Linked DNA regions of Homo sapiens. The protein of the gene in region 1 purifies or fractionates together with the protein of each later gene. This does not show direct contact. Each region holds a gene or a part of one and is shown on either strand. Other genes may lie near its edges.

Evidence for each region. Proteins that work in one complex are often made in the same cells at the same time.
Region 2: the proteins of INPP5B (region 1) and BCAT1 fractionate together in Homo sapiens (co-fractionation; one large-scale study listed by BioGRID). This does not show direct contact.

What each region holds. Positions count from the first base shown.
Region 1 is NC_000001.11:37,872,896-37,878,397, forward strand, and holds part of INPP5B (type II inositol 1,4,5-trisphosphate 5-phosphatase isoform 1 precursor), read right to left. Parts: exon of another isoform or gene 5,429-5,502; coding exon 5,293-5,428; intron 2,822-5,292; coding exon 2,711-2,821; intron 1,261-2,710; coding exon 1,098-1,260; intron 271-1,097; coding exon 35-270; intron 1-34. UniProt on the Homo sapiens protein: Hydrolyzes phosphatidylinositol 4,5-bisphosphate (PtIns(4,5)P2) and the signaling molecule phosphatidylinositol 1,4,5-trisphosphate (PtIns(1,4,5)P3), and thereby modulates cellular signaling events.
Region 2 is NC_000012.12:24,809,524-24,813,101, reverse strand, and holds the end of BCAT1 (branched-chain-amino-acid aminotransferase, cytosolic), read left to right. Parts: 3' UTR 1-3,078; downstream 3,079-3,578.

The sequences.
Region 1 (5,502 bases):
AGTTCTAGATGTTTCTTTGTGGCATATTACTCACCAGCTCACTAATGGTTTCAAGTGGTAGGTCCAAGATTGGCTCTCTCATGTAACACAGTGTATGAATGGGAGACCCAAAACAGCTGGGCAGGTAGTTCCCAGACACAGACAAAAAGTAATCCTTTCCCCTGTCCAAGTGCAGAACCAGAATGTCCTCAATTTTGTCTTCACCCGAGTTGAGCTTTGTAGCTGTCATCTTATTTACGAAGAGCTCCAAGTCAATCTCAACATCAGAATCTGCAGAGAAATTTTAAAAATAATGTTGGCCGGGGGCAGGCCAAGAGGAAAGGGGAAAGAAGGCAGGAGGGAAGAGGGTAAGGCATAAAGGGTTAGGAAAAGGAAAGAAAAGGTATCAGCCAACCAACAAGCATCCAAATGTGCTTGGCATGCAGGAGACACAAGAACAAAGAGTTTATAGTCCAACTGGGAATATGAAAACAACAAACAAAAACATTTGAATAGACAAATGCTATAAAATTCAAGCACTAAGGAGCACAGCTCAAGCTAGAAATACTAACAGAATAAGAAGGCATGGATCAAAGAGCCTTCCCTGAGCCAGGTAAGATGAAGATGACTGACTCAGTAGAAGTGTAACGCAATTATCGGCCTGTGAATTGTCCACAAAACACCCTTCATTGTTCCATCACAGAGTACCATGCAGAGTGCGAAGGAGAAGTCGGGAAAAATGTGGATGGTACATTCCAGAGCCAGATATAATTTCTGGATTACTTCCCCATTATCAAGAGCAGATAATTGGGAGTTGATTATAGCAAGATAGTAAAATGGTTCCTTTAACAGCAGCACCTGCTATACAGCAATTTTATGTTTTCTCTTTCTGTGAAATTATGGAACACATAAATGACTGAGAATGCTTTTGAAACTGAACTCATGCTCCTCACTATTTTCTATTTTATTCATGAATGGGTTCATCTATAGGGCTTTTTAAAAAGCCTCAAGCAGAGAATAAAACACTCAAGCAAAAAGCTCATTTTAGGAAAATGAGCAAATATAGAGTAAGGCATTCCCCAAACCAGATACCAGGAAGCTAGGAACAGAGGCCTTACCTGGCAGGAGGAAGCCTCTGCTGGGGTTGGCATTCAGCCACTGCTTACAGTAAGACTCTTCATCAGGCTTGTTGATGAATTCAAAATGACAGGGTACTTGTCCATTATGAATTGTAAAGGATTCTACTTTCAATTGCATGTACTTCACATTCTGAAAACAGAACTGGGAAGAAGCCCGGGGCCAGTGAAAACCAGTGCCCTTTCCTCAGCAACCTGCCCAGCCACCCCAACTGGGCAGTCCTTACCATGGAAAGAAAATGAACCATCTCTTTTAAATGTTTCTGCTTTAAGTATCTACCTGGGAGGCCACAGTTCCCACTAAAGACTAGTTATCTGTGTTTAACCCAAAATCCAAAAATTCCGTTTGTTTTTGTATGTCTACTTCCTGAAGAAGTCAAAGTTTATATCTTCTATACCCAAAAACCATTTACAAAATACCCTTCACAAATTCCACTTCTAAACATGAAGATCAAGCCCATCCTTCCAAGTAGCTGGACATCTAGGGCATTAAAAATGCCATCTGCGGCTGCCACAGTGGCTCAGGCCCATAATCCTAGCAGTTTGGGAGGCCGAGACGGGCAGATCACTTGAGCTCAGGAGTTCAAGACCAGCCTGGCCAACATGGCAAAACCCCATCTCTACTAAAAATACAAAAATTAGCCAGGCATGGTGGCACAGCCTGTAATCCCAGCTACTGGGAGGCGGAGACAGGAGAATTGCTTGAACCTAGGAGGCGGAGGTTGCAGTGAGCCGAGATCGTGCCATTGCACTCCAGCCTGGGTGACAGAGTAAGACTCTGTTTAAAACAAACAAACCAAACAAAAAACGCCTTCACCTTAAACCCCAATTTGACTTTGTAGAATGTCAAGTGTGAGTGATCTTCCATGTGGCTCTTCCATGAAAAACCTTCAGACCATATTCAACTTCCTATATTACCTATTCCTTTTCTATACTGTCTTCCCTCCCATTAACTCATGGGTATCCAAACTCAATTTAATCTCAAAGCAAAGCATCAGTAAGAAGAAAAATCCATTGCAAGAATACACAATAGTTATTCTAAAATCAAAACACATTTTGAACCATATTCTGGTTTAGAAGAATAGGACATGATGACCTAAGCCAACAACCTCTCTCTTCTCAGCTAACACCATCAGCCTCACTTTATCGAAAAGCAGTCTATCAAGAAAGACCACAGTCCATAGTGCTATAGGTGCCTCCTAGAACTCTGAGCTCCAATAGATGAGGAGATTTAAGCTCTAGGAATAGAAGAGCCCAACACTAATCTTTTTTTTTTGAGATGGAGTCTCACTTGGTCGCCCAGGCTAGAGTGCAGTGGCGCGATCTCGGCTCACTGCAAGCTCCACCTCCCAGGTTCACGTCATTCTCCTGTCTCAGCCTCCCGAGTAGTTGGGACTACAGGTGCCGACCACCACGCCCGGCTAATTTTTTGTATTTTTAGTAGAGACAGGGTTTCACCGTGTTAGCCAGGATGGTCTTGATCTCCTGACCTCATGACCTGCCCACCTTGGCCTCCCAAAGTGCTGGGATTACAGGCGTGAGCCACTGCACCCGGCCTGAGCCCAATGCTAATATTCTTAACATGTCCTTCCTACCTCTCGCTTGGACAGGGACACAGAAGGAATGTTGGCATTTTCCATCTTATCCAGGGAGCGAACAATTTCCTCCAGTGTCTTCCGGTAAAGCTCGTCATTTACGACCCTCACCTGAAAGGGAAACATCAGAGACTGAGTACCTTGGCTTCTGCCCATTTCCTCTTTCTCAGTATAGACGGCATTCACAGCACTGGGAAATAGCAGTTGATAGCAACACAGAAAACAAAGGCTATAGATTTAGTTAATTAATGAACTCCATTAACAATTGACTTAGAAGGATCTGCCAGAGGCAAAGCTTGTGGTACAGGCATCTGCTTCCTGATTACCAGAAAAAAATACATGGAAGTGAAAGCATGGTTAGCAGTTAGTTCTGCCAGGTCTTAGGACCAGGGCAGAAAAATGCTTGCCCAGTACCTAGCTCTATTTTGCTTGCTGCCACCAACAGGCCAGCAGTGAGAACTTTTTCTAAGGCTTTGATTTAAAGCAGTGTTTCTCAAGTTTGTTTTTTTTTTTTTTTTGCAACAAGGTCTTGCTGTCACCCAGGCTGGAGTACAATAGAGTGATCTTGGCTCACTGCAACCTCCGCCTTCTGGGTTCAAGTGATGCTCCTACCTCAGCCCCCCAAGTAGCTGAGACCACAGACACAAGCCATCATGCCCAGCTAATTTTTTTACTTTTTGTAGAGATGAGGGGTTTTGCCATGTTGCCCAGGCTGGTCTTGAACTCCTGAGCTCAAGCAATCCACCCACCTCAGCCTCCCAAAGTGCTGGGATTACAGGTGTGAGGCATTGTAATGATAATAAAGAGCCACCACAGATAGATAATAAATAAATGAGAAGGCTCATGCCTGTAATCCCAGCACTTGGGGTAGCCAAGGCAGAAGGATCACCTGAGCCCAGGAGTCACTTGAGACCAGTCTGGGCAAGACAGCAAGATGCTGTCTCTTTAAAAAAAAAAAAAAAAAAAAAAAAAAAAAGGGCCCGGTGGCTCACGCCAGTAATCCCAGCACTTTGGGATGCCGAGGTGGGCATATCACGAGGTCAGGAGATCAAGACCATCCTGGCTAACACGGTGAAACCCCGTCTCTACTAAAAATACAAAAAAAAAAAAAAAAAAAACCATTAGCCGGGTGTGGTGGCGGGCGCCTGCCTGTAGTCCCAGCTACTCGGGAGGCTGAGGCAGGAGAATGGCGTGAACCTGGGAGGCGGAGCTTGCAGTGAGCCGAGATGGCGCCACTGCACTCCAGCCTGGGTGACAGAGCAAGACTCCATCTCAAAAAAAAAATTAGTCAGGTAAGGTGACACACACATACAGGCATGCCTGTAATCCTACCTACTGAGGAGGCTGATGTATGTGGGAGGATTGCTTAAGCCCAGCAGATTGAGGCCGCAGTTCGCTGTGACTGTGCCACTGCATCACTGCACTCCAGCCTGGGTGACAGAACAAAACAGTGTCTTTTGAAAAAAAACAAAAAGAAAAGGCTGGGAGCGGTGGCTCATGCCTGTAATCACAGCACTTTGGGAGGCCGAGTCAGGTGGATCACGAGGGCAGGAGATCGAACCCCATCTCTACTAAAAATACAAAAAAATAGCCAGACGTGGTGTAATGTGCCTGTAATCCCAGCTACTTGGGAGGCTGAGGCAGGAGAATCGCTTGAACCCGGGAGGCGGAGGTTGCAGCAAGCTGAAATCACGCCACTGCACTCCAGCCTGGGTGACAGAGCGAGACTCCATCTCAACAGAAAAAAAAAAAAAGGAAAGGAAGAAAAAGATGCTGATCTCATAGGTAATCAGGGAAATGTAATCTAACATGATAAAATATCTGCTTATTGGGTTGGCAAAAATTTTGAAGACTGATAAAACCCAATATTGACAAGGGTATGGGAAAATAAACTTATACATGGTTGGTAGAAGTATAAAGTGGTAAAACTGTTGTGAGGGTAATTTAGCAAGATCTAATAAATTTAAAATACATTTTTTATTTGAACCGCTAATTTCATCTCTAATAATTTCATTCTATAGAAATACACTGATACACAAACATACATGTGAAGGGTGGTCACAACAGCACTGTGTATAATAGCAAAACTTTGGAAATAACTTTATGATCATCAATACATACATTATGGCTCATCCATACTATGGAATACTTTGCAACCTTTAAAAATAATGAGAAGAAAGCTCTACCTTCACTGTCCTGGAAAGATCTCCTAAGACATATTCAGTCAGGGAAAAAAAGATGTCCTCAGAGCAAAATGTATAATATGATCTCTTTTACAAAAAAGGAAAAATATCCTCAATGTTGTATACACAATACTGACACACCCATTTATAAACGCATAGAGAAAGGTCTGCAAAGAGACAGTTCAAAAATGCAAAAGGGAACTTCCATGTATGAGGAAAAATGCAGAGGCATACTAAAACAATTATTAACCAAGTTGTTAATAATTGTTTTAAATTGTCCTAAAAGGGGCTTCTTCCCTCTCAAAAGGAGAGGAAGAAACCAGAAAGACAAGAAATGGTCTTAGTTGTGAAAGCCAATTCCCTCCAGAATGATTACAACAGGTACCAGCTGCCACCTACCCCGATGTCAAACACTGAGCTGACAGGCTTGTGGTCACTGGTCTTCAGGGCCATGTGGCTCTGGTAACTCAGCTGAGTGATGTTCTTCCCTTTCCAGAGAATCCGATCACACCAGGCAGGAGCACGGCACTTCTCACTGAAATGCAAAGTCCACACTGGAAGTACTCACAGAAACAGCAGTGCCCGCTGCCTGGCGAGTGCCCTGGCTCA
Region 2 (3,578 bases), on another chromosome or scaffold:
AAGGCATGAAATCAGTCTTAAAAATTGAAATGGGGGTGATGGGGGAGAAAAAGAAGAACAAATTTGAAGTGCCCTTTCAAATCTGCTGGATACAAGTATTGAAGTTTTAAGTCATCTTATTCTGTCTGAAAGTGTATTTTTCATTCTACAATAGACCCAATCAACAAGACGTATAACTTGAGTTGCATGATGTTCAGTTTATGTAATCTACTGTTGGGATGGTAAGAATTGATGTAGGCTGTGGTGTAAGAATGAATTAAAATATAGTTTCACTGGCTTTTCTCTACATATCCACTATCACAATGGCTAGGTTTCCTGTTGCTCACTATTGGATTCTGGAGAAAAATTTAATGAAAGATGATATCAGAGGAAGAATAAGTGGAGGTAGAGAAGAAAGGAATGATAGAGGAGGGGAAAAAAACAAAACATATTTTTGTGTTATCCAAAGGAGCTTTTTCCTTATTCTGTCAAGCATTGAGATCTTCTTCAGCTTTCAATGTAGTTGCTAAATACAAATAATGCTACTAGGTAGTGACTAAATATAGCAAACACTTCATCAGATATTAGAATTAGGTCACACTATTGAGGTTATAATCTGAAGGTTGTGTTACATAGAAACCACTTTAGATTATTATCAACTTGGACTAGGCTTTATTTTATAATAGCATAGTAAGTAATATCTATTGTGTCATTTCTTCAACCATTTTATTCTAAGATCCATGAAGCTTCTTGAGGCCAAATAAAATAATAAGTTTAGACAAGAAGTAGATTGTGACTTTTTTCCCTTAGAGATACTATTTACTATCTCCTATCCTGATAGGTGGAAGGTTTACTGAATTGGAAATTGGTTGACTATTAGTTTTTAACTAAAATGTGCAATAACACATTGCAGTTTCCTCAAACTAGTTTCCTATGATCATTAAACTCATTCTCAGGGTTAAGAAAGGAATGTAAATTTCTGCCTCAATTTGTACTTCATCAATAAGTTTTTGAAGAGTGCAGATTTTTAGTCAGGTCTTAAAAATAAACTCACAAATCTGGATGCATTTCTAAATTCTGCAAATGTTTCCTGGGGTGACTTAACAAGGAATAATCCCACAATATACCTAGCTACCTAATACATGGAGCTGGGGCTCAACCCACTGTTTTTAAGGATTTGCGCTTACTTGTGGCTGAGGAAAAATAAGTAGTTCGAGGAAGTAGTTTTTAAATGTGAGCTTATAGATAGAAACAGAATATCAACTTAATTATGAAATTGTTAGAACCTGTTCTCTTGTATCTGAATCTGATTGCAATTACTATTGTACTGATAGACTCCAGCCATTGCAAGTCTCAGATATCTTAGCTGTGTAGTGATTCTTGAAATTCTTTTTAAGAAAAATTGAGTAGAAAGAAATAAACCCTTTGTAAATGAGGCTTGGCTTTTGTGAAAGATCATCCGCAGGCTATGTTAAAAGGATTTTAGCTCACTAAAAGTGTAATAATGGAAATGTGGAAAATATCGTAGGTAAAGGAAACTACCTCATGCTCTGAAGGTTTTGTAGAAGCACAATTAAACATCTAAAATGGCTTTGTTACACCAGAGCCATCTGGTGTGAAGAACTCTATATTTGTATGTTGAGAGGGCATGGAATAATTGTATTTTGCTGGCAATAGACACATTCTTTATTATTTGCAGATTCCTCATCAAATCTGTAATTATGCACAGTTTCTGTTATCAATAAAACAAAAGAATCCTGTTTGTGTGGTTTCATGAAATCAGCATTGTTGAATGCATGAAGTAATAATGCTAAATTAACATTTTTATGATGTCTCAAGGTTTCTGGTCAAGGGAAGTAAATGTAGGATAGTATTTTTACACCAAAATGACACAGAGAGAATTGAGCACACCAGAAAGACCAGAAACCACACCACTGGATAGAGATTCAATATGTTTCTTTTTCAAACATTTGGACAAGAAAAAAATGGGCATTTAAAAATTCTTCCTTCCCCTGGTTATGGATTTATCTGTAGTAAAACTTAGCTTTGTCGTTTGAGATTTGCACAGAATGGGGGGAGTAGATTACCTCTTCCCATTCATTGTCATAATGGATCTACATCACTGATAAACACCATACTTCTATATGTGGTTAACTAGCTTTAGAATAAAAGACACTTTAAAAAGTAAAAGGCCTAGAGATCTTCAATGAAGTGTCCCTTTTAGCCAAACCAGGCCTTGCAGAAATTGTCCTCAAAAGCACCAAGGGAGAACAAAGCCAAGTGCAGAATTACCCAAGGGTCACACATTTTGTATTCATTTTCTTATAATTTGCCCAAATGATTTGAAGTACAGCAAAACCTGAAGTTTTGCAAAGAGTTACTGTAAACTGAACTTAAAAATGTCAGAGTGCTCGGTGACCCACTTCTCCAGACCCTGTCAACCTGTGAAAATATTGGCCTTTATTCAGATCTCTCAAGAAGTTACGCGCAGAGTTTGGAAGGTCTAGGCAAAGGTTATTAGTCAAGTGTTCTTACAGTGTCAACGCTCAATTCCCACAAGCGTGAGAAAGAGAGACCTGTCATTCCTGAGGGTGATGACATACATTTACTGGAGCTTATATAATTTATCAGATAAGACAGCAGTTTCCTTCAGGGTAGAAAGTGTGTTTTCTACATTGATTTAGTACAAAACAAAAAGAAAAGGGGATATTTCAAATTTTATAATTATTTTTCTGCTAAGCTGATTCAGTGTGATTTAAGCATATTTTTCAAATCATGAATCTGATTCCATATACATATGTGCCTTATATTGTGATAATTTATTTTTAAGTGAAATATGCTATCATAGCCTGACTTTATGTATAGTGGTGACAACTTGCAGGATCGCATTTCTGTAACCAAACGGCCGACAGCTGAGGTGTAGATGCTTCCTATGGTCTGTAGAATAATCACTGGGCTTGTTCTCTAGCTATGTCTGTATGCAATCGCGACAGTGTTGATCAAAACCCATGATCATTCTCTCCAAAGGTCTTTGTCACTAAGCCACTAGGGATTCTGAAAAGTTCGTGAGCTGAAACAAATAAATTGAGTTGGAAGATTCATGTTGACTGTTTGTATCCCAAATGCAATATACCAGTTTTTGAAGCTGAACTGATTACATTAAAAAGGGATCAAGCTGCATTTGTTTTAAAGATAGTTACATGACCAAAAGTTGCTCAACATCATTGGTCATTAGATATGTGCAATCAAACCTGCAATGAGATATCACTTCACCCCAGTTAAAATGGCCTATATCCAAAATGCAGGTAATAACAAATGCTGGTAAGGGTGCAGAGAAAAGGGAACCCTCTTACACTGTTGTTGGGAATGTAAATTCATACAACCACTATGGAGAACAGTTTGGAGGTTCCTCAGAAAACTAAACATTGAGGTATGATATGATCCAGCAATCCCACTGCTAGGTATACATCCAAAAGAAAGGAACTCATTACATCAAAAAGATATCTGCAATTCTATTTTTGTTACAGCACTGTTTACAATAGCTATGATTTGGAAGCAACCTAAGTGTCCATCAATAGATGAATGGATGAAGAAAATGT